Linked DNA regions of Homo sapiens. The protein of the gene in region 3 interacts with the protein of the main gene of each other region in a pairwise test. Each region holds a gene or a part of one and is shown on either strand. Other genes may lie near its edges.

Evidence for each region.
Region 1: the proteins of ZFYVE21 (region 3) and CMTM4 interact in binary tests that used the Homo sapiens proteins (3 or more experiments, as listed by UniProt).
Region 2: the proteins of ZFYVE21 (region 3) and RABAC1 interact in binary tests that used the Homo sapiens proteins (3 or more experiments, as listed by UniProt).
Region 4: the proteins of ZFYVE21 (region 3) and RTN4 interact in binary tests that used the Homo sapiens proteins (3 or more experiments, as listed by UniProt).

What each region holds. Positions count from the first base shown.
Region 1 is NC_000016.10:66,686,368-66,693,895, forward strand, and holds part of CMTM4 (CKLF-like MARVEL transmembrane domain-containing protein 4), read right to left. Parts: intron 1-7,528. UniProt on the Homo sapiens protein: Acts as a backup for CMTM6 to regulate plasma membrane expression of PD-L1/CD274, an immune inhibitory ligand critical for immune tolerance to self and antitumor immunity. May protect PD-L1/CD274 from being polyubiquitinated and targeted for degradation.
Region 2 is NC_000019.10:41,956,322-41,964,569, forward strand, and holds RABAC1 (prenylated Rab acceptor protein 1), read right to left. Parts: upstream 3,001-8,248; 5' UTR 2,972-3,000; coding exon 2,916-2,971; intron 2,628-2,915; coding exon 2,415-2,627; intron 2,063-2,414; coding exon 1,965-2,062; intron 799-1,964; coding exon 697-798; intron 614-696; coding exon 525-613; 3' UTR 362-524; downstream 1-361. UniProt on the Homo sapiens protein: General Rab protein regulator required for vesicle formation from the Golgi complex. May control vesicle docking and fusion by mediating the action of Rab GTPases to the SNARE complexes.
Region 3 is NC_000014.9:103,710,693-103,718,958, reverse strand, and holds the start of ZFYVE21 (zinc finger FYVE domain-containing protein 21), read right to left. Parts: upstream 3,150-8,266; 5' UTR 3,118-3,149; coding exon 2,980-3,117; intron 1-2,979. Other genes in the region: DNA repair protein XRCC3, read left to right, coding at 7,872-7,926. UniProt on the Homo sapiens protein: Plays a role in cell adhesion, and thereby in cell motility which requires repeated formation and disassembly of focal adhesions.
Region 4 is NC_000002.12:54,971,240-54,977,530, reverse strand, and holds the end of RTN4 (reticulon-4), read left to right. Parts: intron 1-2,766; coding exon 2,767-2,836; intron 2,837-3,663; coding exon 3,664-3,710; intron 3,711-3,909; coding exon 3,910-3,968; intron 3,969-4,332; coding exon 4,333-4,375; 3' UTR 4,376-5,342; downstream 5,343-6,291. UniProt on the Homo sapiens protein: Required to induce the formation and stabilization of endoplasmic reticulum (ER) tubules. They regulate membrane morphogenesis in the ER by promoting tubular ER production.

The DNA.
Region 1 (7,528 bases), on a different chromosome or scaffold from region 3:
CCTGGCCAACATGGGAAACCCTATCTCTACAAAAAATACAAAAATTAGCCAGGCGCCTGTAATCCCAGCTACTCAGGAGGCGGAGGCAGGAGAATTGCTTGAACCCAGGAGGTGGAGGTTGCAGTGAGCCAAGATTGCGCCACTGCACTCCAGCCTGGGTGACAGTCAGACTCTGTCTCAAAAAAAAAAAAAAAAAAAAAGTTCCTCCAAAGTTGTGGAGAAAGAATTAATTTAGCCCTGTGGTCCAGGAGGAGCCATTAGGACTTACAGAGGTCACCATTTCCCAGTTGTCTGTACTTGTGGGTAAGCATACTAGAAACCTGGAATAAACTGAGACCTTCAGATATGCTTTGGGAGGAAATGTCAACCAAGTCTGTATTTTTTTTTTAAATGTTCAGAAATGTGGTGGTCTTGTCCTTTGATGTAGTAAAAGCACTCCTTGAAATTTAACCAAAAATAATAATTCAAAAGAAGAATCCAGGCTACACTCATGAGGACATTTATTGACGCATCTTCCTAATAGCAAAAAAACTAGAAAACATAATCACCAGACTTTGCCACAGGGGATCATATGTAGCCTTTGGAAAGGAAAAAATTTCCAAGTCCTTTTCATTTGAGTCTGTCATAATACGATGATTATTTTTCTAATTTCTAATTTTCTTTAATGTTACAACATTTTCACTAACAAATGAGGGTAAATTCCTTTCAAATGGAAGAAGTTTTCCATTAGCATCAACAAATTTATTAAGCACCCACTATTGTGCAGAATGCTTTTTTTTTTTTTTTTTTTACAGAAAAGTGCATTTTAAAACAATTTAAGCTTCAAGTTTGTCCAAGTGGTCTGTATTATCTAAATCATTCTTCCCAAGGGCCTCCAAATTACAAAGAAAGTCATGAAAAGTTAAAGATTACAGTCAGTATATGAGCTTTAAGGCTATACTAAGGTAAAGCTAGTAACATCTACTATTTTAGTAATTTTTGAATAGAAGGTACTTGCATGTGGTACAAAATTCAAGGGCTGGGAGCAGTGGCTCATGCCTGTAAACCTTGGACTTTGGGAGCTGAAGGCAAGAGGATCGCTTGAGCCCAGGAGTTTGTGGCCAGCCTAGGCAACATAGCGAGACCGTCTCAAAAATAAAATAAAATAAAATAAAATACAAAAGGTACAAACAGTTATACAGCAGAAAATGTCTCCCTGACACCCTGGCCCTCGGCCACCCAGCTCCCCAACTTGTATCATTCCAGAGATATTCTGTATCACTATCAGTCTGTTGTCTGTTCTGGTTGCTATAACCAAATACCGTAAAAAGGGTAATTTTTTTTTTTTTTTTTTTTTTTGAGACGGAGTCTCGCTCTGTCGCCCAGGCTGGAGTGCAGTGGCGCAATCTTGGCTCACTGCAAGCTCCGCCTCCTGGGTTCACGCTATTCTCCTGCCTCAGCCTCCTGAGTAGCTGGGACTACAGGCGCCTGCCACCACACCCGGCTAATTTTTTATATTTTTCATTGAGACCGGGTTTCACCGTGTTAGCCAGGATGGTCTTGATCTCCTGACCTTGTGATCTGCCCGCCTCGGCCTCCCAGAGTGCTGGGATTACAGGTGTAAGCCACCGCGCCTGGCCAAAATGGGTAATTTATAAATAGAAATTTATTGCTCATAGTTCTGGAGGCTGGAAACTCCAAGATCCAGGTGCCAGCAGATTCAGTATCTGAGTGAGGGCCCATTCTTCACAGACGGCACTTTCTATGTGTCCTCACATGGCAGAATGAGCAAGGACACTCCCTTCAAACTCTTTTAAAAGGGCACTAATCCCATTCATGAGGGCTGAGCCCTCATGACTTAATTACTTCCCAAAAGGCTCCACCTCTTAATACTATCACACTGGGTGTTAGGTTCCAACATCTGAATTTTGGGGGAATGCCAACATTCAGACCATAGCAACCTCCAACAGGCTTTGATGACGTGGTGTCTTGAGACGCTGAGCTAGGGAGCATGGTGGGCTCACCAGCACTGTAATACTACCATTATCCCCAACTTACAATCCCCAAGTGAGAGACCTGCAGGAGATCTGCTTGTGGCCTGAGTGAACAAGTAGCTTGCCAAAAGTCTCATGGCCGATAAGAGATACGAAGTCCATCATACTCTCAGAAACACTCCCCTCAACACACACACACACACACACACACATTCTACCCTAAACAAGGGTGACTTCATGTCATTGTTCTCTCTCCCTGGAACATACCTCCATAAACCATCACTAGCCCTTTGCCTGGCTAATATAAAGTTTAGAATCAGCATTCTTCTATCTACAAAAAAACCTTGCTAGGATTTTGGGATCGTATTAAACCTATAGATCATTTGTGGAGAACTAATATTTTAACTATATTGAGTTTTCCAATCCTAATGAACACAGAATGCCTGTCTACTTATTTTGGTCATCTTTGATTTCTTACTTCAGTGTTTTGTAGTTTTCAGTGAGCAGATTCTATACATGTTTTGTGAGATTTATATCTAAGAATTTCATTCTTTTGAGTGCTGTTATAACTGATATTGGTTTTTTTGTTTTAATTTCCAATGATTTATTGCTAGGATATAAAAATACTATTGGTTATCGTGTGTTGACCTTATATCCTGTAACCTTGCTAACTCACTTATTAGTTCTAGGAGGTTTTTTATAGATTCCCATGTGATTATCTACCTAATCATGCCATATGCGAATAGGGACAGTTTTATTTATTTCTGATCTGTACGTCTCCTATTAATTTTTTTGCAACGGCTAGGACTTCCAGTATGATCTTGAATATGAGTGGTAACAGTAAACATCATTGCCTGTTTCCCATCATGGGGGAAAGCATTCATTCTTTCCCCACTGTAACATTATATATTACAGTATAATGTTAGCTGTAGATTTTTTGTAGATGCCCTTTTTCAGGTTGAAGAAGTTCCTTTCTCTTCCAAGTTTGCTGACAGCATTTATTATGGAAAAGTACTGAATTTTGTCAAAAGTTTTTTTTTTCTGCATCAAATGATAGAATCATGTGGCTTTGGGTTTTGTTTTGTTTTTGAGAAACGGTCTCACTCTGTTGCCCAGGCTGGAGTGTAGTGGCACGATCGCGGCTCACCGCAGCCTTGACCTCCTGGGCTCAAGCAATTCTCCCACCTTAGCCTACAGCTGGGACTACAGGCATGCACAACCATGTCATGCTAATTTTTGTATTTTTTGTAGAGAAGGGGATTCACCATGTTGCCCAGGCTGGTCTTGAACTCCTGGGCTCAAGCAATCCACCTGCCTCGGCCTCCCAAAGTGCTGGGACTACAGACATAAGCCACTGTGCCTGGCCTGTTATTTTAAGTTATTAATATGGTGTACACCTATAACATTTACTTTCAAAAACTGCACCAACCTTTTTGTTCCTGGGATAAATCAAATTGGTTTGGTGTATTATTCTTTCTCCATTATGCTGGGTTTTATTTTCTATATGGTATTTTGTTGAGGATTTCTGTGTCTGTGTTCATATAAGGAATATTGGTCTGTAGTATCATTTTCTTGAACTGTCTTTGTGTGGTTTTGTAAAACACATGTACGCTCTACATTTAACAACTTCTTTTGAGATCGTGGATTATAATTTCACTATTTTTAATCATCAAAAAAACTTAAGAGTAATTATAACTTTGCTTTTCTGCCAGAATTTATTTGACTCCAAGTCCTTGATCAGGAAGACAACTCCTAAAGATAACAATCTTCCTAAAGGAAAATGGGACTGTTTTACAAGGAGCCACAGAATGGTGGATCTGAGAATCCAACATAGAGAAACCCACTGCTTCATCTACCATTATGCGCTTGTATATGCATGACTTCAGGGATAAATGGGAGCCAGAAGTACAAAGGAATCTTCAGTAGTAAACAAAACGCAGAACCCTTCACGGTTTGACCAGGGTCATTGTGTGTCTGCCTGGTCATTTGACCAGCTCTTACGAATCAGGAACCCAGCTGAACCTCAGTTGAACCAGCCCCTCCAACAGAACTGAGGGGATTTGGGGCTGATAAGCTCAGTGCTATGTCTACAGCCAGTCATTTCTCAAAGTTGCAGCTTTGTAAATGTAGCTATATTTGTGTTGCATATGATTTCTATAATGTATTACTGCCCCACCCCTGCACATCCTCCAGAGAACAGTAACCAGCCAGGGATTGTGCTGACTGGCTTGAGATTTAAAAAACTAACAAGGTTTCCACCAAATAAAAGAGATGCCATTACCCACCCCTGAAGTGCAAATACTCACATTTGTTTTTGAGTTACGTAAGAAAGCAACTATCAAACATTAACCTCTTAATTCTTACAATTCCTAAAATGGTCAATTAGTCATTACTACCCATACTGTACAACTGAGGAACCCAGATTCGATGAGATTAAGAGACATCAAAATCAGCTGAGCTAAAATTTGCATTTAAACATTTCCAGGCCAGGCGCAGTGGCTCACACCTGTAATCCCAGCACTTTGGGAGACCAAAACAGCAGGATTGCTTGAGCTCAGGAGTTCGAGATTAGCCTCTAGTTTGAGGCAACATAGCAAGACCTCGTCTCTACAAAAATAAAAAAAAAAATAGCAGGGCATAGTGGCACATGCCTGTAGTCCTGGCTATTCAGGAGGCTGAGGCAGGAGGCTCCCTTGAGCCCAGAAGTTCGAGGTTACAGTGAGCTATGATCATGCCACTGCATTCCAGCCTGCAGTGACAGAACAAAAATCTGTCTTAAAAAAAAAATTCCTATTACCCATCTTTTGTTATTAAAAAGTCCTATACAAATACATTGTCAGAAAGTCATCTAGGCATGGGAAGGGCTCAAGAAAGGGATGTGGATCAGGTGCGGTGGCTCACGCCTGTAATCCCAGTTTGCGACCAACCTGGGCAACACAGTCTCATTAGACTGTCTTTATTCATTTAAAAAAAAAATTCACACAAGGAGGAAGAAGATAATTTAAATCAGTTGTTTAACCACACTAGACATTCTCCCCAACTAAGAGATACGTACAGGTTTCATTTTGAAAAGATATAGGCGGAGGTAAGTGACTCATGCCTGTAATCTCAGCACTTTGGGAAGCCGAAGAGGAAGGATTGCTTGAGCTCACGAGTTTGAAACCAACCTGGGCAACACAGGGAGACCCTATCTCTACAAAAAATTTAAAAATTAGCTAGGCATAGTGGCATACACCTGTAGTCCCAGCTAGTTGGAGGGCTGAGGTGGAAGGATCACCTGAGCCCAGGAGGTCGAGGCTGCAGTAACCTATGATTGTACCACTGCACTCCAGCCTGGGCACAGAGCAGGACCTTGTCTCAAAAAGAAAAAGAAAAGATAAAATCTATGCAACTGCACCGTTTAATTTTTTCATAATGTTTCAGATTAGCTTTAGTATCCAATCACATTCCATTAAAAATACCAATTTAACTTAAATCATAAGGAATTAAACTATCTTTAATTCAAACACATAATTATGTTTTTGGTGATATTTTCACACAGTTTCTTTAGAGACAGGCATTGTTAGCACTATGACAGCTAACATTTATTGCACATCAGTTAGATACCTAATACGGTAGGTACTAACTTACACATATTATTTCATTTTCTTAATCCTTTGAGGGAGGTATTGGCAGTCTCATTTTACCGAAAAATCTCAGCTTTAAGGTTGACTATTTATCGAAAGCTGGTTGCTAGCACCTGTGTGAGGTTTTGTTGTTTTTTTTTTTGAGATGGAGTCTTGCTCTGTCACTCAGGCTGGAATGCAAGGGCACAATCTCAGCTCACTGCAACCTCTGCCTCCCAGGTTCAAGCGCTTCTCCTGCCTCAGCCTCTGGAGTATCTGGGATTACAGGCACTCGCTATATGCCTGGCTAATTTTTTGTATTTTTGTAGAGATGTGGTTTCACCATGGTGGCCAGGCTAGTCTTGAACTCCTGACCTCAAGTGATCCAGCCACCTCGGACTCCCAAAGTGCTGGCATTACAGGCGTGAGCCCGGCCTGTTGCAAGGTTAACACTGAAAGGATATAGAAAGGTAAGTCTCAAACTTTAATGTACACGTGGATCACCTGGGGAATCTTGTTTAAATGCAGATGACTCAGAAGTTCTGGGGTAAGGCCACTGATTCTGCATTTCTAACAAGCCCTTAGGTGATGGCAATGCTGCTGGCCTAAGGCCAAACTTGGAATAGCAAGGATCTACAGGTTGCAATAGGCCACAAAAAACACCACCAAAAAGTCTACAGCCCAACGCAGGGGCTCACGCCTGTAACCCCAACACTTTGGGAGACCAAGATGGGCAGATCACTTGAGGTCAGGAGTTCAAGACCAGCCTGGCCAACATGGGGAAACCCCATCTCTACTAAAAAATAGAAAACTTAGCCGGGCGTGCTAGTGGGCGCCTGTAATCCCAGCTACCTGGGAGGCTGAGGCAGGAGAATCACTTGAACCTGGGAGGTGGAGGCTGCAGTGAGCCAAGATCTTGCCACTGCACTGCAGCCTGGGTGACAGAGCAAGACTCCATCTCAAAAAAAAAAAAAAATCTAAAAAAACTAAATTTATGGCCAGTCGCAGTAGCTCACGCCTATAATCCCAGCACTTTGGGAGACTGAGGCGGGTGGATCACCTAACGTCAGAAGTTTGAGACCAGCCTAGCCAACATGACGAAACCCCGTCTCCACTAAAAATACAAAAATTAGCCAGGCATGGTGGCAGGCGCCAGTAATCCCAGCTACTCGGGAGGCTGAGGCTGGAGAATTGCTTGAACCCAGGAGGCGGAGATTGCAGTTAGCTGAGATGGTGCCATTGCACTCCATCCTGGGCATCAAGAACAAAAGTCTAACACAAAGAAAAAAAAAACATACACACCACTAAATTTATTTTTAGACATGGGATCTTGCTACGTTGCCCAAGCTGGAGCACAGTGGCTACTCCGAGGCACCATAATAGCTCCCTGTGACCTTGAACTCCTAGGCTCAAGCAGTCCCCCCACCTCAGCTTCCTGATTTTTAAAAGTCAAATTTTTCTCCAAACCGCAGAGTTAGAACTTACTCATATTTCTTGATGGATTCTGAGTTTTGTAACATCTCAGAAGTATCTTCATAATGACTTCTTATTTTCTTTTCAGTTTAAATTTAGAGTCCAATTTCTTGGAGTTTTGTGGGATTTTCATCAAGGCTGGGAAGCCAACTACACCAAAACCATTTGAAGTTGCCATACCCTTCAAGCAGGTCCCTTTCCTTTACTCACCCACATATAACCTCTCAGAGTTTAAGTTCTAGAGATTAACAAACAACAGAGTTAGGCGAGATTCTGGGGGCTAGGCCCAAAAGTTCTTCCGGATGAAAAGTACAAATCTAGGCCAGGCGTGGTGGCTCACGTCTGTAATCCAGGCACATTGGGAGGCCGAGGCGGGCAGATGACCTGAGCTCAGGAGTTCGAGACCAGCCTGGGCAACATAGTGAAACCCCGTCTCTACCAAAAATACAAAAAATTAGCTGGGCATGGTGGTGTGCG
Region 2 (8,248 bases), on a different chromosome or scaffold from region 3:
CTCCATGCACCTTTCCTTTTGGCTGACTTGGCTCCATACCCTTTGATGAGAGTAAATCAGAGCTGTGAGTGCAATTGCATACTGAGTCCCCAGTCCCAGAGAACCATCAAACCTGGGGTGCTCTCTGATTCCTGAGTCCTAAAGAACCATCAAACCTGGGGGTGGTCTCGGGGACCCCCGGCACACTGTCCTTCTCAACTCTTTTCTCCTCCTGAACACTCACCACCATTGGGCATCCCATAATATTTTACCTGTTTACCTTGTCATCGTCTTGCCCACACCCCAGGTTCCACCCCAACCCTGCTCTGTGCAGTATTCCCAGCTCCACCCATAGAGACCCACAGAAGATGCTGGGGGAATATTTCCTGAATGACACCCATAACAGCTTTATTTTCAAAGGCGGGATCCCTCCCCGGGCTTGTGATGGGACGGCGCTGTGGGCCCGAGCAGCAGAGCCGTGCAGGACAGGCATGGGCAGGGGTGGGGCAGCTGGCCCGGGAGGCCGGCAGGTCCCAGAAGACACCTCACACGGGTTCCATCTGCAGCTCCTCCCCGTCCACAGCCTCAATCTGGTGGAAGGCAGCGTGGGAGCCGATGACCACCAGGGTGGCTCCTGCAGGAAAGCCGGCAGCTCAGGGCCACACTCCTGCACCTGGCTCCCACCATCCACCCCAGCTGCTCAGACCCTGTACTCACCCAGCACCCAGAAGACGGCCGAGCCCGCACCAGCCAGCCAGAAGAAGGGGAAGGAGATGCCTCCAGCCAGAGCATACTGATGCGCTGGGCTCACCTCTCGGCCTGGGGGCAGATGGCATTGGGGTGCTGTTCCGACTCTCCATGCCCTCTCCCAGAGTAACCCCTGCTGCCCCCCAACAATCCGTACAAGCTCCAGGTTCTCGGGATCGAATCCAAACTCCTCATGCCAAGGCCCTCCAGGTCCTGGGGTCACCCTGTTCCCCTGCTGTCCCCACTGCCCTCCAGAACACAGCACACCGTCCTCGCCTGCCTCAGCCCCACCCTCTGCCCTCTGCCCCACATCCTCCAGGAAGTTCCTGGGATCCCGGCTTCCTGCTCCCTAGACTAGGGCTCTCCTGCTGCAACCCTCGCGCAGACCAGGGTCTCAAACTGGTGGCCCAAGGGCCAAATCTGACCTGTGGATGTGTTTTTTGAGCTGTTTTGCAAGGATGTGATTTGTGGCTGGCAAAGTGAACGATTTCACATAAAAATACCAACTTCAGGCTTCTCATAGAAGTCTCAGGGATGGGGTCTACATGCTCTGGTGACGGTGATCAGCTGAAGCCAAGTCGTGCCTGTGCTTCAGGCACTCCCTCCACCCCAGCCCATCAAGCACATAACTTGCAGGCCCCTGAAGAGCCTGGCCTTCAGGTCTACCTAACTGTCCAATCCCAACTCCCTGACCCCACTCCAAACCTTGATTTTCCCCTGGGGGGAATTTCCCCTGGCATTTTGTTTTCCCAGTGGTCCTTGGTACTACTAGTCTGGGAACCACATGAAACATACTCCTCGGCTTCCCTCTCTAAGTTCCAAGTTCTTTCTGGTCACACCCCAGAAAGCAGGAAAAGAAACGGGAACAGATCTAGGCCAGTGTAAGGTGGCCACCTGGTGTCCAGTGTGGGCACCTGCAGCTGATGTTGGCCGCAGAGAGCGGCAAGGGGAGGAGAGAGAGGGGAGGAGTCATGTGGTTTGAAAAGGAGTAGGTTTAAGGCACAGCAGCCAGGTGGATCCTGGGTTTGAGGAATAGCAATTTGAGGGGGCTGAGACTCGATGGAAGGATCGGTTGTGTCTGAGATTTTAAGGGATCAGGTTTGGGGGATCTAGTGTACATCTAGGCTTGGGCGGACTTGGGTTTTGAAGGACTTGGATTTGGGGTCTGAGGTCTGTCTGCATTCCAAAAGACCAAGATTTGAGGGACCAAGGATTCATCTGGGCAGGGGGTTTCTCACCAAAGAGCACAAGCTTGGACTCCAAGGTGCGCAGATAGAGAATGTAACAGGCGCCGAAAAAGACAGCCAGAGCCACCAGCAACATAGGGGACGTCACCCTGGAGGAGGAGTGCAGGGAGGCAGCGGTTAGACAGCTGGGGCTGGGCCAGCCCGACGGCCCTGGCCTTCTCCACCGGCGGGCGGCAAGCTACATCCTGGAGACCAGGGAGGGCCAGGTGACATTTAGTCACACTGCATCCTGGCCAGGGTGATGGTGGGGTAGGGGACCTGGCCCTTTGGTGACAAGGTAGTCTAGCAGAGCCAATCCTTGGGGGCGGGGCCTGGGCGGTGAGAAGAGGGCCCTGGGCGGTGAGAGGAGGGACCGGGCGGTGAAGGGCGGGGCCTGAGCGGCGAGAGGAGGGGTCCAGCCGGTCGGGGCTAGTGCGGGTGCGGGGCCCGGGAGGCACTCACACACAGTACAGGATGAGGCCCAGGAACACGAACACATAGTTGCTCTGGTAGTACTCCACGTTGCGTACGAGGCGCTGGCACAGCTCTCCCAGGTTGCGGGGCCGTGAGAAGCGCTGCTGGTCCACGAAGGTGCTCCAGGGCCGGATGGTCGCGCGGCGCCGCTCCAGCCACTCCCGGCCTGCACCGGAGGGAATCAGCTTCGGCAGCAGGGTCCTGCGGGGGGTGGGGCCGGGTCAGTGGTGGACCGGGATGGAGCCCCAGACCCCCGCAAAAGAAGGGGACTAAGGGTGCCTGGACTCCCTCCCGGGACCCCAGATTCCTGTACAGCAGGCAGGGAGGGGACTAGGGGCCCAGACTCCAGGGTCCCATTAGAGGAGACCGGGGCCAACACTTCTGCGGCTCGGGGCTGGGACTCCAGGCTCTCGAGGGAGGAGGGAGGAGGGGGCCGGGGGCCCGGACTCCCGGGTCTCTGGTCCGAGGGCCTAGAGCCAGCTCGCTCACGTGCCGCTCAGCCCTTCCGCCTCGGCATCTTTCTGCTGGTCCTTCTGCGCTGCCATGTCTGCGTCGTGAGGGGTAGAGCTGCTGTAACCAGCCCGGTACCCTGAAGACCCCGCCGGCCCCGCCCGACGCCGGCCCCACCCAGCGGAGTCGACGTGGCGCAGCCCCGGAGCAGCTGGGGACTGTAGTTCTGCCGCCGAGTATTGTGGGAGTTGTAGTCCTGACGGTGACTAAGAGGATGGGCGCTATGATGGCGGTCTGACTCGCAAAACACCTTGGGAGATATAATCCCAGAAAGTGACGGCGCGCGCCTCTGGGTATTATAGGAGTTGTAGTTTCAGGAGGGTGCATGTGGGCTGTCAGGAGCGAGGGCGTTATGGGAACTCTAACGGCAGAAGCGGGCGTTGTGTACTCTCCCAGGGAAGGCACAATGGGGACCGTGCAGAGCTGTCCTTCTGACTCTAGAGGGCATAAAAAAACACCTGGAGGGCTTGCTAAAACAGATTCCTGGGCCCTAGCCCAGATGTTTTCATTCAGCAAGTCTGGGGTGGAGCCCATAATTTCCATTTCTGAGTTCCCAGGTGATGCTGATGCCCCTGGTCCATGGACTACATTTTGAGTAGAAAGATTTAGATAATTTGTGGGAATTGATTCCTTCCTCAAGAGATTGAGGCTAGTGAGGGGGCCATGGTTGCTGGAGGGGTATCTGAGGTTGCCCCCTGCCCCACCTTGTGGAGTCCCAAAGATGAATGAGTTGGGGCTAGGGACACCTCCGACCCCGCCACACACACCTTTGGAGAGAAGGGAGTGAAGTTGGGAAAGACAAAAGGTTGAGAAGTTTTGTGGGCTTTTTTGAAATGGAGTCTCGCTCTTGTTGCCCAGGCTGGAGTGCAATGGCGCAATCTCGGCTCACTGCAACCTCTGCCTCCTGGGTTCAAGCGATTCTCCTGCCTCAGCCTCCAGAGTAGCTGGGATTACAGGCGCCCGCCACCACGCCCAGCTAATTTTTGTATTTTTTTAGTAGAGACGGGGTTTCACCATGTTGGCCAGGCTGGTCTCGTACTCCTGACCTCGTGATCTTCCTGTCTCAGCCTCTCAAAGTGCTGGGATTACAGGCGTGAGCCATTGTGCCTGGCCCACAGGGCTGGAATTCTAATTGAATTCTAATGGGGTGAACCAGAACAGGGCCTCAAGAAATGTGTGTGGAAGTATAGGGAAGCCTGGGCTCCCTTAAGCAGACTGGGATCCTAATTTTCCAAAGCAGCTGGGTGGGGCTGGAAGGAAAATATCTATATGGGATAACCAGGTGACCTTTTTTTTTTTGAAAATTTTTTTAAGTAGATAAGGGATTTTGCTGTGTTGGCCCAGTAGGTCTCAAACTCCTGGACTCAAGCGATCCTTCTGCCTGGCCTTCCCAAGTATTGGGATTACAGGTGTGAGCCACCATGCCCAGGTTCAAGTGACTTTTTTTTTTTTTTGAGACGGAGTCTCACTCTGTCGCCAGGGCTGGAGTGCAGTGGCACAATCTTGGCTCACTGCAACCTCCACCTCCTCCTGGGTTCAAGCGATTCTCCTGCCTCAGCCTCCCGAGTAGCTGGGATTACAGGCGCCCGCCACTATGCCCAGCTAATTTTTTGTATTTTTAGTAAAGATGGGGTTTCACCATGTTGGCCAGGCTGGTCTCGAACTCCTGACTTTGTGATTTGCCCGCCTCGGCCTCCCAAAGTGCTGGGATTACAGGTGTGAGCCACTGCGCCTGGCCCCAAGTGACTCTTTTAGGCCCAGCTCTTGTCTTCCAAGATCTACAGCAGTTTAGGGTTTGTGCTTTGAGGCCTGCTGGAAGGTGTTCCCAGGAGGTGGGAGGAAGATGGCCCTGTCTGAGGGGCTGGTGGCGCAATAGGCAGGGAAGCCCTTTGCAAGGGCCCCACACTGAAGATGGAAGAGTTACACTTTGAAGATCAGATTGGCTAGTTACTGTTTATTTCCTCTTTGTCACCCCCAGGCTTTTAGTGGAATCAGGTTTCCTTTTTTTTTTTTTTTTTTTTTGAGATGGAGTTTCACTCTGTTGCTCAGGCTGGAGTACAGTGGCACAATGTCTACTCACTGCAACCTCCGCCTCTCGGGTTCAAGCGATTCTCCTGCCTCAGCCTCCTGAGTAGCTGGGATTACAGGTGTGCACCACCATGCCCAGCTAATTTGTGTATTTTTAATAGAGACGGGGTTTCACCATGTTGGTCAGGCTGGTCTCAAACTCTGACCTCGTGATCTGCCCACCTCAGCCTCCCAAAGTGCTGGGATTACAGGCGTGACCCATCACACCTGGCCTGGAATCAGGTTTTCTAAATAGGATTCAAACTTGAAAATCAAAGGAGGACTGCGGGGCTGGGCGTGGTCCTGTAATCCCAGCACTTATGGGAGGCTCAGGAGGGTGGATCACTTGAGGTCAGGAGTTCAACACCAGCCTGGCCAACATGGCAAAAGCCCATCTCTACTAAAAAAAAAAATACACATGCCTGTAATCCCAGCTACTCGGGAGGCTGAGGCAGGAGAATCACTTGAACCCAGGAGGCGGAGGTTGCAGTGAGCCAAGAGTGTGCTATCGCACTCCAGCCTGGGCGACAGAATGAGACCCTGTCTCAGAAAAAAACAAAACAAAACAAAACAGAAAACACCAAAGGAGGAGTGCAATAGCACAATTAGCCCCGAGCAGGAATAGGGGAGCAGCATCTGAATTCAAAGGGCCAAAGCAGCAGAGGTAGCCCTTGGAAGAACCTCCACCGAAAGACAGAGCTTGGGGAATAGAATTGGGACAGAGCTCCAGCTGCCTCTTTGGTGGCAGGCCGTAGGAGATTCAGGATGGACTTTTGTTATGAGAGCTGTTGGGTTTCCTTATAGGAACTGAATGAAAGCAATTTCATTCCAAAACCCACTGGTCTTTGTTCTGAGCAGAGAACATAGAGGCAGAGGCCTGGAGGTGTCGAACAGCGCAGGCCATGGCAAGAGACGGGGAGGGGGACAGTGGAGTCTGAGGGGCAAGGACATTGCAGGAGGGGTCCTAGGAGTGGGAGGGTGGGGGGGGACTTTGAATAAGGGAATTTCAGGAGATGGGACCTGGACACAGGGGTAATGTGGGAGAGGAGGGCCTGAGGCAGAGACATCATGAGATGGTGAGAAATGGGGTCCCTGAGGGAAGGGGCCTTTGGCAGATGGGCCCTGAATTAGGGGGGTAGGGGGTTGGTGTGCTGGGAGATGAGGGGGCACCTGAGAAGATTGTGAGTCCCAGGCCAGGTGTGGCTCACGCCTGTAATCTCAGCACTTTGGGAGGCCAAGATGGGCGGATCACTTAAGGCCAGGAGTTCGAGACCAGCCTGCCCAACATGGTGAAACCCCATCTTTACTAAACATACAAAAAAAAATTAGCTCGGCGTGATGGTGCACGCCTGTAATCCCAGCTACTCAGGAGGCTGAGTCAAGAGAATCGCTTGAACCCAGGAGGCAGAGGTTGCAGTGAGCTGAGACTGTGCCACTGTACGAGACCCTATCTCAAAAAAAAAAAAAAAAAAAAGAAAAAGATGGGTGCCTCCAGCCTGAGGACTCCTCCCTCCCTCCTGGGATCCCCAAGGAAGCGGTGCTGGGAAAGCAGGAAGACCTTAGCACATTCAGCCAGAAATGTGGGTCACTGTCCCTGCTGTGTGACCTCAAGGAAAGCCCTCCCGTCTCTGGGCCTCAGTCTCCCCACCTGTCTATGGGAGCGTCTCTTCCCCTGCACCAGAAAAATTAAACAGTATGTGTGGGTTTCCTAGGAGAGGTCTGGGCTCATGTAGCCCCTACCAGGACCAGGCTGTACTCTGGGGTCACCAGGGGTGCCCAGCGCACATGGCCCCTGCCCTCCAACTGCCTTTCCCCCTCAGATTCGGGAGTTTCTCCCTCATCCATTGTCTTGTGCAGTGGGTGTGTACATGCACTTGCACACTCACCCACTCACACTCACTCTCAGCATCCTGGCCACAGACACTGGCATTGGGAGGCAGGCAGGCCCAGGCCTGGCCCCAGCCCCTCCTCTGACTTGCCTCCCTGAGCTGTGTTAGGAAGGCTGCCTCGAGGGAAATGGATTCACTGCCCCACCAAGGTGGCAAAAATGAAAAGGACTGACAACTCCCAGTGGAGGAAGGATGTGGAGCAGCTGCTGCTTCCTTACACTGTTGGATGCAGAATGGCACTCGAACTTTGGAAAGGGTCTGGCAACGTCCATGAAAGCTAAACATGGTCTATCCCATGAACCAGCAATTCCACTCCCAGGCACGCGTGTACCCAACAGAGTGCACATCTGTCATTAAAAGACACAACTAGAGGGCTGGGCGCGGTGGCTCAGGCCTGTAATCCCAGCACTTTGGGAGGCCGAGGTGGGCAGATCACAAGGTCAGGAGTTCGAGACCAACCTGACCAACATGGTGAAACCCCGTCTGTACTAAAAACACAAAAATTAGCTGGGCGTGGTGGTGCACGCCTGTAGTCCCAGCTACTCGGGAGGCTGAGGCAGAGGAATCACTTGAACCCGGGAGGTGGAGATTGCAGTGAGCCAAGATCGTGCCAGTGCACTCCAGCCTGGTGACAGAGCGAGACTCCGTCTTAAAAAAAAAAAAAAAAAAGAAAGGCCGGGCGCGGTGGCTCACGCCTGTAATCCCAGCACTTTGGGAGGCCGAGGCGGGTGGATCACGAGGTCAGGAGATTGAGACCATCCTGGCTAACACGGTGAAACCTCGTCTCTACTAAACATACAAAAAATTAGCCGGGCGTAGCGGCGGGCGCCTGTAGTCCCAGCTACTCGGGAGGCTGAGGCAGGAGAATGGTGTCAACCCGGGAGGCGGAGCTTGCAGTGAGCCGAGATCGCACCACTGCATTCTAGCCTGGGCGACAGAGCGAGACTCCGTCTCAAAAAAAAAAAAAAAAAAAAAGACATAACTAGAGGGCTGGGTGCAGTGGCTCGTGCCTGTAATCTCAGCACTTTAGGAGGCTGAGGTGGGTGGATCACTTTTTTTTTGTTGTTGTTGAGATGGAGTTTCACTCTTGTTGCCCAGGCTGGAGTGCAACGGCTCGATCTCAGCTCACTGGAACCTCCGCCTCCCGGGTTCAAGCAATTCTCCTGCCCCAGCCTCCCAAGTAGCTGGGATTAGAGGAGTGTGCCACCATGCCCGGATAATTTTGTATTTTTAGTAGAGATGGGGGTTTCTCCATGTTGGTCAGGCTGGTCTCGAACTCCCGACCTCAGGTGATCTGCCTGCCTCAGCCTCCCAAAGTGCTGGGATTATAGGCGTGAGCCACCGTGCCTGTTTTTT
Region 3 (8,266 bases):
CTCCCCGCTGCACAGCTCCAGACGCCTCTAGCAACAGTCCTCACTTCAGATCTCTCCTCATCCGAGTCCAGGCTCGTGATCAGACGCGCACGTGCTCTCTCCTTCCTGGCTCTGAATCTAGAGTATCCATCAAAGTGTCAACCCGCCAGCATGGAGCTGCGGTCATTCTTCTGCCAGCACCACGGATGGGAGGTGGGAGGGGTGCACAGCGGCAAGGATTTTAAGGATAAAACTCAGGATCTCAGCTGCTTGTGACAAGCCCAGATGGCTGCACGCCCGGACCGCCCACCCCCAAGCCCACTGCCTTGCGTCAGTGTCGGATATTTGATGGCAGAGTCAGACAAGCCCCAGAGATCATCTGAAGCTTCCTTCACACCCCCAAAGCACCTCTATCCAAAGTGGTGTCGCACGAAGCTTTACACGCCGCCTCTGCCTCCCCTGCCCCACAGGTTCCTGAGGAGGCACAGACTGGAGAAACGATTCTCAACTGGTTCTGCGTCAGAGCCTTGAGAATCTGAGAGCTGCAGGCCACCTCTCGGAGAAAGGTGCATGTGTGCACATGCTCCCCAGGGGGTTTTGCAGCATTTTAAAGGGATAACCCTCATGGGCCCAAACTGATAAACCAGCCCGGTCAGGCAGCTGGTATTCGGGAGACGGGCACTGGGCTGGATTCAGACTCCCCTGGCTAAGAACAGAGCTGGAATGAAAATGGACCAACACGTTTACAGATATGACGATGATGCCGATCGGCACACGGCCACCAAGCCAAGGACAATGTTACCCACCTGCCAAGTTCTACCAAATTCTCCTCTCCCCATTCCAAACCACCTCAAATAAACCTATTTCCCACAACTGGTTATCTGCACATTTGAGTCACCTCCCGACAATCACCTTAGCGGCCCCAAGCACGCAGCCAGCACAGTGTAGCTCAGTGTCCCCTTCAGCATCACCACATGCCAGGCGACTGTTACCGTACATGTCCCCTCGAGCTATTGCACCTAAAGCTGGACTTTATTCCAAATCTTCCAGCCCTTACTGCCCCGTTCTAAGTTCCTCCAGAACACTGTCTTTGGTCGTTTCTGGCCTGTAAGACCATGCTCCAATACAATTCACAACGCAAAACTCAGAGACAAAGTCCATCTTATTAGAATGGTTTCTCTGTCCCCCAAGCCCACCCAATGCTAGGACCTCCCTCAGCTGCTCAGATCCCAGTTAATCATCCAAACATGGTGGGGGGCTCTGGAGGGGTATCCTGCCACCACGCCAGCGTGGGAATGAATCTTCTCTTCCACGAGGGGTGCCACCTTGACTCAAGTGTTTCAACTCCACTCAGTCGGAAGTCACCGCGGGACTGCCACACAGTGCCTCAGCAGAGGCCACAAAGAAAGGCAGGGAAAAATGCTAAACAATTCAGCTGATACCAGAAGGGCTCTGGAAGAGAGAATGAAGGAGGGGAACACAGTGGTTCACTATAAAACAGAACCGTAAGATCAGTGCATGTGTACAGCAGGGAGAAAGAAATTGTGCTTTGGTGGAAACCTCTGCCTCATCTTGGCCACACTTTCTCACGTGCTCCTTACGGTTCATACAGACGTAGAGTATTTCTGTGCTATTAAGAGTTCGTTACACCATAAATACAATTTTCACGTGTCAACTTAAAAGTAAATTTTAAAAAAGATGAAGGAGGATGATTGGCGGAAAGTGTCTAAAAAGACTCCTCATGGTGGCGATACTGGGGAGAGGTGGGCAGCACTGGTCTCAACTCTCCAGGACACGCTCAGTGACCGGTGATGGCTCCGTACACTGTAGATGCCAGAGACACTTCCCCAGAGTCACTCGAATTCCGTCCTGTCCCCGAGGCTCTGTGGCCGCTCACCCCCCACCAGGCCTCCAACCAAGCTTCAATGAACCCAGTCAATTAGTGCTACTTTGACTTCTTGAACCTAGTTCCAACGTCTGCTTAGTTCTATCACTGAGGGAATTAAACGAATCTGTAACACGTGTTAAGTATGAAAGTCATATTACAAAAATTCTTTTTCTCCCCCAATTTTTTTTTTATCGTGGTAAAATCCACAGAACAGAAACTGGACACACCTGTTAGCGCACAGCCAGTGGGATTAAATGCACTCGGGGCCTTCCCAGTTGGCCAAGGGGCTGGTGTGAGGCAAAGGCACCTCCGATCAGGTCACAGGGAACCCCACGGGAGGCCCAGCGGATGGCCTGGCTCAGGGACCCCACGCCCACGCCCCAATGTCTGCAGGAGTGGCCTGGGCAACTCCTGCCGTGTCTGGGCCCATGGGAAACGGGTGCAAATCTGCGGTCTCCTTCAAACTGTCCAGTGGGCGACTGCGACCTCGCTTCCGAGGTGGAGGGTGGTATAGACGAAGGGAAACGGGGGGCAGCCTGGCCCGCAGACTGGGTCCTGGCCCTCCTTCCGAGCAGGAGGTGGCTTCGGAACCGGCCACCCGCCCGCGGCACCGACGCCTCCCCCGGTTCCCGGGAGGGACCCCTGCGGGGCCGCCAGCTCCAGCGCTTCCGCGGACAGCACGCGCCCTCCCCACCGAGCCTGCGAGGAAGGCGCTCCGCCTTCCACTTTCTCGGGAGCGAGCCCCAGCTCTCGGGACGCAGTCCACACGCGCTAGCCCAGCACGAACCGGCCTCGGGCAGGGCCGCACCCACCCCCGGGACCAGCCCGCGCCCCGCACCCCGCCTCCCGGCGCCCGCCCTGGACAGGTGCCTCCTGCCCTCCCGGGACCCCCGCACCGGGACACCGCGCGCCTCCCGCCCTCCCCGCGGGCGTAGGAGCCTGAGGCGGCGGCCCGGGGACGCGGCCAACCTGGGAGAGAGCGGGGGCGGGGGCCGGCTGGGGAAGGGGCCGCCCGGAGGCGGAGGGGTCGTCGCGGGAGCCTGGAAGCCCGCGGGGCCGGGCCGGGGCGGCGGGGCGGGTCGGAGGCGCTGGCCGGGGCGACGGCCACCCACCTCCTTGTCCGGGACCCACTGCGGCTCCTCCAGGCCGAACGGGCTTCCGAAGGCGCGGTGTTCGGGCACCATGCGCAGGCCGCTCGGGGAGCGCACCAGCTTCTTGGCGTCGCGGCGCGCGGACACCTCGGAGGACATGACGCCGCCTCAGCCTCTCGGCCAGCGGCCCCGCACCCGGCCCCTCGCCCAGCCCGGGGCACCGCCCGCCCCGCCCCGGTCCGCGCGCGGCTGACAGCGCCGGCGTCCAATCGCCAAGCCCGCCACGGAGCGCGGACTAATCGGAGCTTGAACTCCGCCCCATCGCTGCCCTCTCCAATCCGTGTAAGGGCACCGCCCCTGCAACCCTGAGGTCGATCACCAATCGGCGGCGAGGGCTGGCCCGGGTACGCTCCGCCCCTCTCAGGGAGATTGAGACTTTGGATTGGTTAGTTAGTCAGTCACGTTAGCGCCGCTTCGTCTCTGATTGGTGTAGCCCACTCAGGGTGCTAGGCGCCTATTGGAGGAGAAGGCCGAGAGGAGCAGGACGGCGGGAAGAGGAGTGCGGAACCCGCGGGAGGTGAGGCCCGCCGAGCCGGGCTGCGAGCCGGGCTGCGAGCCGGGCGGCAGCGGGGTCGGAGGTCGTGGGCGGCAGCGGGCGTGAGGGGTGAGGCAGGGTCAAGGGGCGGGGGCGGCCGCGGGTCTCCATTGCCCGAGCCTGTGGGAGCAGGCGGGCCTGGGGCTGCAGCACTCACCCCGGGAGCCCCGCCGCAGCTCGGGTAGCGTTCAGGCACCTCGCCGGGGCCGGGCCGCGTGCGTTCGGAGCGGGGAAGGCGGTCTCCGGGGCCCCCGGTGCGCGCGGGGAGGCGTCCGCTCAGGGGAGGCCGAGGTGGGCCCGCGGCTGCGCCCCCGGCCTTCGATGCCTTCGCTCGTCCGCCTGGGACCGCGCTGGCTTCGCATCGAAGTGGGAGAGGTCTGAACAGTTATTTTAATACTTTGATTTGGAAAGAAAATCCTTTAGGCCGGGCGCGGTGGCTCACGCCTGTAATCCGAGCACTTTGGGAGGCCGAGGCGGGCGGATCACGAGGTCAGGAGTTCAAGACCAGCCTGGCCAACATGGTGAAACCCCGTCTCTACTAAAAATACAAAAATTAGCTGGGTGTGGTGGCACGTGCCTGTAATCCCAGCTGCTTGGGAGGCTGAGGCAGGAGAATTGTTTGAACCAGGACCCGGGAGGCGGAGGTTGCAGTGAGCCGAGATCACATTACTGCACTCCAGCCTGGGCTACAGAAAAAGACTCCATCTCAGAAAGCACACAAAAAAAAGAAGAAAATGTTTGTTCATCCTGCCTTTAATTCCTTATTACAAGGCGTGAATTTTTATTGTTTTTTTTGAGACAGTCTGGCTCTGTCATCCGGGGTGGAGTGCAGTGGCGTCTTCACAGCTAGGCACAACCTCGACCTCCCAGGCTCTCAAGTAGCTGGGACCGCAAGCGCCACTACACTGGCCAGCTATTTTTCTTTTTTTTTTTTTTTTTCGGTAGAGAGTAGGTCTTGCTGTGTTGCCCAGGCTGGTCTTGAACTCCTGGGCTCAGGCGACCTTGGCCGCCTTGGCCTCCCACGGTGCTGGGATGACAGGCATCAGCAGTGTTGAAGCCTGTGAGGTGGGGTCCCTGTGGCTGACTCTGCCCTCTCCTGGGGCCATTGGCAGTGCAGGGGTCCTTGTGTGTGGAGGAAATAAGGAGATGATCAAAGTATGATTCCACGAATCACACGGTTTATTGTCAAAGAAGATTTGTTCTCGGGTTCACAGTGCTCAGAGGGGAGGAGAGGGGAGGAGGTGAAGACACCTGGCAGGGAAGCAGGGCCTCCATGGATGGGGTGCATTCACGGCAGGGAGGTGAGTGGCAGAACGGCCAGGGTCCGGTTGCTCTGCTGGGATGGAGCGGGCCCCTGGAGAGTGAGATCTGGTGAGAGTTCGAGGTTTGCCTTGGTAGCAGTGGAGAGCGTGAGAGCGGGAGCTCTCTGAGAAGCTGGGACCGAGGTCCAGCTCCCAGGCCAGCAGCGTATAGCTTGCCTCAAAGCATCTGCACAACCTTCAAGCTGATGTCTGTTTTTGCAGTCCAGCAGTCAGGGTCAGTAACTCACATAAGGGAGTGTCTGACAAGGTTTAAGTGGCATTCCCAAGGTTGCGGAGTTCACTCAAGTCCTCACATATGTGGTCTGATAAGACATCACACTCTTGCAGGGGGGTCAGGTCACCCCAAAACATCAGACTATGTAAGTGCTGTGAATCACTTCAAAGCTACACAGCAGGTCCCAGGGCCCAAGGCAGAGGAGTGAGTCCACCTCGGAAGGCTCAGAGCAGCTCCAGGCAGTAACCACGGCATTTCCAGAGTCTGGTGTGTGAGCCTAACAGCTCTGGTGTGACCGTCCGTACTCACCTAGCAGCACGTGACATCAGCTCTCCCCCTGAAGTCATTGCTCAGCTCGGGTGCTGCAGGAAGACATACAGGTCTGTCTTGGGCCAGCCCCTTGCCTGCTGTGGGCTGCTCCCTGTGTGTGGCCTTCACCCCGGTGTAGAGAGATGGGCTGGTCACACCCCTGCCCCTCACAGCGGCGAGAGGACAGAGGCATGTGCCGGGCTGTCTGTGGAGCTCCCAGGCCAGTGTCTGGGATGCGGCAGGTGCTTGGTGTTAAAGGGAAAATATTCCAGGATATCTGTGAAAGCACGTTAGGCAGAGACCAGGCTTTCATTCAGAACCTTTGAGAGATGTGGGAACCACCACACTGCGGTCTTGCAGTGGGAGAGAGGCTGGGCTCAGCTCTGAACAGGCCATGGGCTGGTGGCGGCTTACAGCTCCAGAGCTGGGCAGGGGCAGAGGATGGAAGGTTGCTAAGAGGAACCCCCAGGGGCGAAGGGGATGCAGGTTCAACTGACCTGCCAGATCAGGCCGCCCGGGGGACAGTGGAAGATGAGGCGCCTAATCAGCTGTCAAGGGTGATGGGACACGGGAGGAGGTCGTCACTAAACAGACTTTGAGCCAGGCCTGTTAAACCAAGTTCTCAGCAGGATGTGCACAGAGGGCCCAGGAGGAGCCTCAGGAGCCGGACTGCCGTTGGCCAACCGGTGAGTCTGTTATCCGTCAGTGGACACTCTGCTTCCAGGTGCCTTGGCCTCGGCCCGCGTCCTGAAGGCGGGAGACGTTGCAGCCACGTGCTGGCCTTCCCGGTGCTCCTGCCAGCGTCCCGCTGCTTGACACAGTCCAAGTTTTGTATCCAGACCCAGCCTGGGACAGCAGCCTCCCGACAGCCCCCAGGCCCAGCCTGTCTGTGACAGTCACGCCTGCTCAGGGAACCATCCCTCCGTGCAGATCTGGGCTGTGTTTTGGGTGGTACCTCGGGTGTGGGGTCCCCTACCAGGTGCGAGGTTCATACTCCCCAGGCTGCCTCCTGTCCTCAGGGCTTGGAGAGTCCCATGTTCTGAAAATGACCTCTTTTCGAGCCGGGCAAGGCCGCATCTCCTTTGGCAGTGTAGTGTCTTCCCTGGAGGTGGCATTCCTTTTTGATTTGCCTTCTGTGCTTGGGAACCTCACTTCCTCACTCTGGCCAGCTCTGCCAGCAGTTTGGAGCTGGTTCAGCGCCCCACCGCCCTGCCTTGGCCTGCGCCCGGCCCTCCAGGGTGGCTTCTCGCCAGTTCCTGTCAGGCCTGCCTGGGCAACCAGGCCTGGGCACCTCCCTGTCCCTTGCTCAGAAAACCCACAGGCTGTGGGGGCCCGGGAGCCAAGCCTGGTGCGCGGGCAGGAAACGCATCCTGGAGCACCAGCTTCCCTGCCCTGCCCGCCTCACGGGGTGCCTGGGGGCGTGCCTCAGCCTGCTGCTCCTGTAGTCTGTTCCTGTCTCCCTGAGCAGGCTGAACATGGGCATACGAGTGACCAGCGTGATCGTGTCCAGGCCAGTGCCGCATTCTGTGTGGTCCAAGGGAAAACCTTCTCCAAGTCCACGGCCCGCCCTTTCCTCTGCTGGGTTACGGCCAAGGGCGCCAGGCCTCACTGGAGGACATGGATCCTGGACCCGGCCCTCGAGGCTGCTGCCTTCCAGTTTCCCCATGTCCTGGACACTCTTGGTCTCACCATTTGGGAGGCCGACAGGGGATGCAGAGTGGCCTGTTGGAAAGGCCTTATGTGACCCCAGGCTGAGTCCCTGAGCAGCCTGCTGAGGCCGGAGGGGAGAAGAGCTGAGCTTCTCCCTTGCTGGGCCAGGCTCGGGCTGTGGAATGGCTGCCAGCTCCCTTCCTGGGAGAGGCTGGGTGGGGTCCACAGCACCTTCCTCCCGTCCCACAGGAAGCTGTCTTCTGCTGTTGGCTGCTGGGGGCGACTGATGTTTGGATCCCTGAGCACCCTGCCAATCCCAGACTCACCTTCCCACTCTTTCCAGAGTCCCCAGGGAGACACTTAAGGGAAATTAAACTGCAGAGTGCAAGAGATGCCTCAGTCAAGTCAGCCAAAAACACGCGGGTCATCCCCAAGCCCCAGAGAGGTGAGTCGGGCAGGGCACTCAACTGCTGCAGGAGGATGGTCTTATTTCTAGCACTTTCCACAGGAGGTAAATGTGGTGGGTTTGGGGGGTTTTTCAAATGCATCAGTGTCTGGAATGGGTTCTAAGCTGCTAAATAATTCTTAGAGGTAAATGACAGACATGTTGCCCTAGATGTAGCTAGACAGCCTTCCCTCTACAGTGAAGTCTCCTCCACCCTCAGTGACAGAGCCCCGATGACACGGACACCTCGGCTGCTGTCACTTCCCTGGTTCGGGCCTCCCACAGGCTTTGAATTGAAGGCGAGTGCCTCAGAATTTGCATCCATTGTTCTGTCTTTCCTGGGAAGTTATTCATCCTGGTGGCCAGCCCACCGACAAAATGGATTTGGATCTACTGGACCTGAATCCCAGAATTATTGCTGCAATTAAGAAAGGTACATTTATTTCTATTTACATAAAGGGTGTGGGTGGGTGTGTGCAGTTTATATAAGGCAGGTTAACAAAACGCTGGCTGGCTAAGCCTTCCTTCCTTTGCCTACCCTGATTATTAAACCGAGGGCGGGATGTACTATGGGATTTTCAGGTGTGTGTGTGTGTGTGTGTGTGTGTGTGTTCTTAACTACATGGATTTCTTTCAGTTACTTTTATTTTTATCAAAGTAATACATGCATATTGTCTAAAAGGTAAAATGGAGCCACATAAAGTCTTTTAGTTTTTTTTTTTTGGAGACGGGGTCTCGCTCTGTCACCCAGGCTTGAGTGCAGTGGTGCGATC
Region 4 (6,291 bases), on a different chromosome or scaffold from region 3:
TTTTTTAGGGACTAAGACCAGGTATTTTCAGCAGAGGTTCTTACTTTTCTGTAATTGAGGCGCAACTATAATGTTCCAGAACACAATCTTAAATCTGAAAGTGAGAGGAAGAAAAAAAAAAAAACGGCCTGAGCTCCAGAAATAGCTGACCCAGAAGAACACTAAAATCTAGCTCTCAGGCTCATAGGCAGCTGTTAACATTCACATTTTGACAGCTTCCTTTCAGGTTTCTTGAGCTCTCAGAAAAATTAGAAGGAAGTGGGCTGGGGATATAGAGAGAGTCCAAACTACCAACTAATGAATGAATCTGAAGGAGACACAGAAGGGCAAGTAGAGTTTAGAGTTTGAGAGTGCAGGAAAGTTTTGAAATGGTCAGAACTGCCAGAGTAATTTCTGAGATCTTACTAAGCACTCTCCCACCGTTTGCCTTAAAGATACCCCTTCCCCCAAATTGAAACATCACAAATCTGCAGAGCTCTTTAATCAGGTGTGTTATACACAGTGAATTTAATTCTCTTATTGCCCTGGAAGAAAGATAAACCAGATGTGGCCCTTGCCCCTTTTCAGTAAGTATTTGTTAGATCTTCATTACATTTTAGGCCTCCTTCCTCCAGTCTCGATACTGTGCAATGGAGAGATAAGCTTTGACCTCTTCAGTTAATAAGTATTGGCTATAATGTTGCAAAGTATTTGCCATGGAATCGTGTAGAATTTGTTAAGTCCAAAATGAGAGCAGCCTGTTTGCTTCTTTAAAGTGTTTATTGACCTTATTCCTGCCATGTTACAAATCCATCATTTGTGGTGGATTCCCATTAATAATGGTTACTCTCTAGGTTAGTTCTTGCTGCCACCCCTTTCTCTCCTGGTGGTGTGTTCCCTGAATACACTTAACCACTATTTCTGTTTTGGGCCGCCGAAGTATTCAGTTTTCTCAACATAGCTGCAACATTTAAAAATTATATGATAGCACACAAAAGTGTACATTTCTGGCAACACTGGCCTGGAATATTTGCATGGCCACAGCGTATGGAGCAGGGTTGTAAGTGCCCCTTTGAGAGGAAGAATGCATATCACTGTGTGCCTCAGTTCTCTCCCAGCCTCTCACATACATGTATGTCACCTGCCTGGCCCTAAGGACATTTGAGACCTCCCTGTGTTCTTCTCTTTGTCTTGGGATAGCCTGGCTTTTAGGAAGTGTTCTCAAAGAGGCAAGTGACATTTGAGCCCCTACAGTGGCTCAGGTGTGAAGTCTTGGGCTTTTCCCCTGTGGACTTGGAGTGAAGCCTTGTCAGTGACTGTAATGACCAAATGAGGAGTTATTTTAGCTTGTGTTTGTTACTATCTTCTGTCATGTTAAGGGCATCTTCGTTGCTAGAGTAATTTCTTCTAAAATATGGAAGGTCAACACTTTTCCCTTTAGACTTGTGGATAGTGATGGATAAAAATAACTCTCTTACTCTATAGTAAACTTGCTCAAGTGCAAAAGTTATATTTAGCTTCAGCAATAGGAGTCTATAAAACTGTGAGAGAAAAGCCTTACTAACTGAAGTCATCCTTCAAACCTTTCTACCAGGGGTTCCAATAGCAATTGCTAAGAATACGGCAGCTTAAAAAAATTTTTTTTCAATTGACAGATATTAAGAATGCCTGATATTTACTGACTTGAACATTAGTTAAATTCAGTTAGGGTGACCAGAGTGTTGCTATTTGTAGAACTGTTGCTTGGTAGAGTCATCCAAAGTGTCTTCCTAAGCTGTAATAAATATGCTTACTAATGTTTGACTGCTTAATTAATGGTCAGTAAGCATTCAGTCAGAGTTCGTTTAATACATGGAGAAAGATATATGCTTTAGATCAAGGGTTAGCAAACCACTGCTTGTTTGGGCCACGGCCTGTTTTTGTATAGTGTGGGAGCTAAGAGTGGGTGGTGTACATTTTTAAAGGGTTATGACAACGACACAGAATAATATGAGACACAAACCCTATGTGGCCCATAAAACCTAAAATTCTACTGTCTGGCTCTTCACAGAGAAAGTTTGCTGATCCCCGCTTTAGATAATGGGGGTGCTCTACTACTCCCCTTTTCATTTATAGTGTTACATAAGCCTAAATAATCACTGTAGCTGGTGGCATCATGTTTGTTACCTACTAAGTAGGTCAAAGTGATTGCCAGACATACACATGAAGGCCTTGAATTAGAAAGCAAAGGAACTGATGATGACCAATGTTTAACAAAATTCAGACTGACTTTGTGCCTGATCCTTCAAAGGCTAGAGGTGATATTTTTGGTACCTGAAACGTAATTTCCCTGATAAGTACTCTTTGCCCAATTATTGCTTATCAGCTGAGATATTAATGTCTGAATTATTCAGCTCATATATCTTCAAGCACTCAACTAGTTCATACTTTGAAATCAATTCTAATAGACAATTCTCATAACACCTTTATAGTCTTCCCATTTAAAAGGTAAATGTTGTTAGGGCTGGAGGGGTAAGATGCACCCTTGGTATATTGTCTGATCTCAGCAGAATCAACTACTTGGTAGTGTAGTCCAGAGAAAATGGGTCAAATCTATTAATTATTTTAGGATTTTGAAATTCATAATTGAGACTCGTGACTTAATAGTGAACTGCTCATGGTACTTTACCCAGTCTTCAAGTTGTATGCCTTTTGTAGGTAGGCATTTAGATGGGATGCTTTTGAAAGCATAATTAAGAAACTTTACTTGAATTTTGTTTATAATGGGCTAATGTTATTTTCTTATAGTTTGCAGTGTTGATGTGGGTATTTACCTATGTTGGTGCCTTGTTTAATGGTCTGACACTACTGATTTTGGGTAAGTCTACAAAGCCATTGGGATGAAAAATTGCTGGAAAGATTGTGTGCCAGGAGCTTAGACATTTTAGTGGAGAATATTCTCATTGTATGAAAAGTAGGGGATGAAAATGTGGGCCGGGCGCGGTAGCTCATGCCTGTAATCCCAGCACTTTGGGAGGCCAAGGTGGGCGGATCACCTGGGGCCAGGAGTTCGAGACCAGCCTGGCTAACATGGTGAAACCCCATTTCTACTAAAAATAGAAAAAATTAGCTGGGCGTGGTGGCGCACGCCTGTAATCCCAGCTACTCCGGAGGCTGAGGCAGGAGAATCACTTGAGCCCAAGAGGCAGAGGTTGCAGTGAGCGGAGATCGTGCCATTGCACTCCAGGTTGGGCAACAAGAGTGAAACTCCATCTCAAAATAAGTTTGAGGTTGTATTCTCTTTAAATAAGTTGGTGATACTGCTTCCCGGTTTATTGAAATGCTACCTTAGTTGCTGAAGACAGCTCCTACTAACAAACAGTGATAAACCAGATAAAGGGTGGCTTTATATGATGGTGCAGTCATAAATCTAACCAGGGATACCTTTATTTTATGAAATCTCACTGTGATATGATTTGAAGCTAGAAATGGTTCCTAGCTCTAATAACTGCAGCCTCACACAGTTCATTCATTCCTCTGGAGTGGCTCCTCAACAGCAGATGCATCCAGAGATCCTTATGTTTTTATTCATTCATTAGGAACACTGCTTGGTTATCTTGAGTTGCCAGTTTAATAGTTTTTTGAGTGTTTATTCCTCCCAAATCATTCCGTTCTTTTTGAAAAGTTGTATATTTCCCTTTTCAGCTCTCATTTCACTCTTCAGTGTTCCTGTTATTTATGAACGGCATCAGGTAATTTCCTAACTAACTGCTGACTTCAGAATAGAGCACTCACTCTATTACATGGGATTTACGGATGTATTAGTGCCCATTTTCAATGTCTTACAAAAATGAGAAGTGTGATGGTTTCTTAAGCCTTTAGCTTGACACATAGTAGTGGTTAATAAGATTCTTTAGCAACGGTAATAATTCCTTTATACCTCTCTTTCAGGCACAGATAGATCATTATCTAGGACTTGCAAATAAGAATGTTAAAGATGCTATGGCTAAGTAAGTATTTAAAATCTGCAGTGTTTTTACTAGGATAAGGTGTGCTGGATTGTGAGAACAGTATTTTCATATTGCAGGCATAATGAGTAACAAATCTCTATCAGACCTTAAGTGTGACTTCAGAGTTGCCAAAAGATTGTTTTTCTAACATTTGGACCATTCGTTTCTGGGTTTATTATGTGTTTAAGGCTTTGTTTAAATCTAATTCATGAGGCCAAGGTGGCAAAATTATAGCTTAGAATTAGGCAGCTTTAAGGATTTCATTTATTGTATTAGCTGAATAACATACAAGTAGTTCTTGGAAGATGGTATTTTAAGCAGCAGCAAACAAAACTGATATTTACATTGACTTTTTCATTTTCAGAATCCAAGCAAAAATCCCTGGATTGAAGCGCAAAGCTGAATGAAAACGCCCAAAATAATTAGTAGGAGTTCATCTTTAAAGGGGATATTCATTTGATTATACGGGGGAGGGTCAGGGAAGAACGAACCTTGACGTTGCAGTGCAGTTTCACAGATCGTTGTTAGATCTTTATTTTTAGCCATGCACTGTTGTGAGGAAAAATTACCTGTCTTGACTGCCATGTGTTCATCATCTTAAGTATTGTAAGCTGCTATGTATGGATTTAAACCGTAATCATATCTTTTTCCTATCTATCTGAGGCACTGGTGGAATAAAAAACCTGTATATTTTACTTTGTTGCAGATAGTCTTGCCGCATCTTGGCAAGTTGCAGAGATGGTGGAGCTAGAAAAAAAAAAAAAAAAGCCCTTTTCAGTTTGTGCACTGTGTATGGTCCGTGTAGATTGATGCAGATTTTCTGAAATGAAATGTTTGTTTAGACGAGATCATACCGGTAAAGCAGGAATGACAAAGCTTGCTTTTCTGGTATGTTCTAGGTGTATTGTGACTTTTACTGTTATATTAATTGCCAATATAAGTAAATATAGATTATATATGTATAGTGTTTCACAAAGCTTAGACCTTTACCTTCCAGCCACCCCACAGTGCTTGATATTTCAGAGTCAGTCATTGGTTATACATGTGTAGTTCCAAAGCACATAAGCTAGAAGAAGAAATATTTCTAGGAGCACTACCATCTGTTTTCAACATGAAATGCCACACACATAGAACTCCAACATCAATTTCATTGCACAGACTGACTGTAGTTAATTTTGTCACAGAATCTATGGACTGAATCTAATGCTTCCAAAAATGTTGTTTGTTTGCAAATATCAAACATTGTTATGCAAGAAATTATTAATTACAAAATGAAGATTTATACCATTGTGGTTTAAGCTGTACTGAACTAAATCTGTGGAATGCATTGTGAACTGTAAAAGCAAAGTATCAATAAAGCTTATAGACTTAAAATATGCTTTGGTATTTTCATTTCATGAAATTGCAGCAGATTAAAAATGCACACAGTGGGTAAACTGCTTCAACCAGCGAATGGTAGCTTGTGCTTTTAGAAGGGTTTTTTTCAGCTGATGGTGCAGCTGTTTGTTTGTTTACTGTGGAAACAAAAGTCAACAAATGTGTTTACATAATCAAATTTTATTTGACACATAAAATGTTTAAGTGATGTGTTTTATACTTTGAAAATAAATTCATGCACCAATGTTTTAACTCACATATATCATACAGTGCAGGATTTATGAACATACATAAAATCAAAATCATACCATATAAACGTTTACAAATAAGTTTTTCATGACACACGGACACTATTGCTCTTTAAATATGGTTGTACATGTCATCATTAATCGATTCATTGTTCTTCCACATGGTTATTTCAATGCAAGATCCGATCAGCATGAAGAGTCTAGTACAAGATAGGCAGACATGGTTATCACTCTGCATCACCAGTCACATGGTTACAGAAAACAGAATTGGGACTGCATAGGGACTCTACTGCGGGCCCAACAACCTATTAGTGGATTGATGTAAGGCATTAGTAAATTGGCATATAAAAATAGCTTAATGAGTGATCTAATCCATTTAGAATGCTGAAGCACTTCTGTGGTAAATGTTAGTCTATTCTACAATTGAAAATGCCTCATTTTACCTTTTCTCTAAACTGACAAATGCAAGTAGCCAGTAACTGTAGGTCTAGAATTTTCGTTCACTGACCAGAAGGACTAATAGGCGTCTATGTGCTCAGAACCACCAGTCCCGCACCAACTCTCCTTTCAGTGAGCACTGTCAGCCACATCCTGTAGTCACTGGTCAGCTACATGGAAAGTGTGACTGAGGGGCTTACGGATGGCTTCTGGTAAAGATTGTCCAAGTCATATTCCGTCATACAACCAACTCCAAGGAA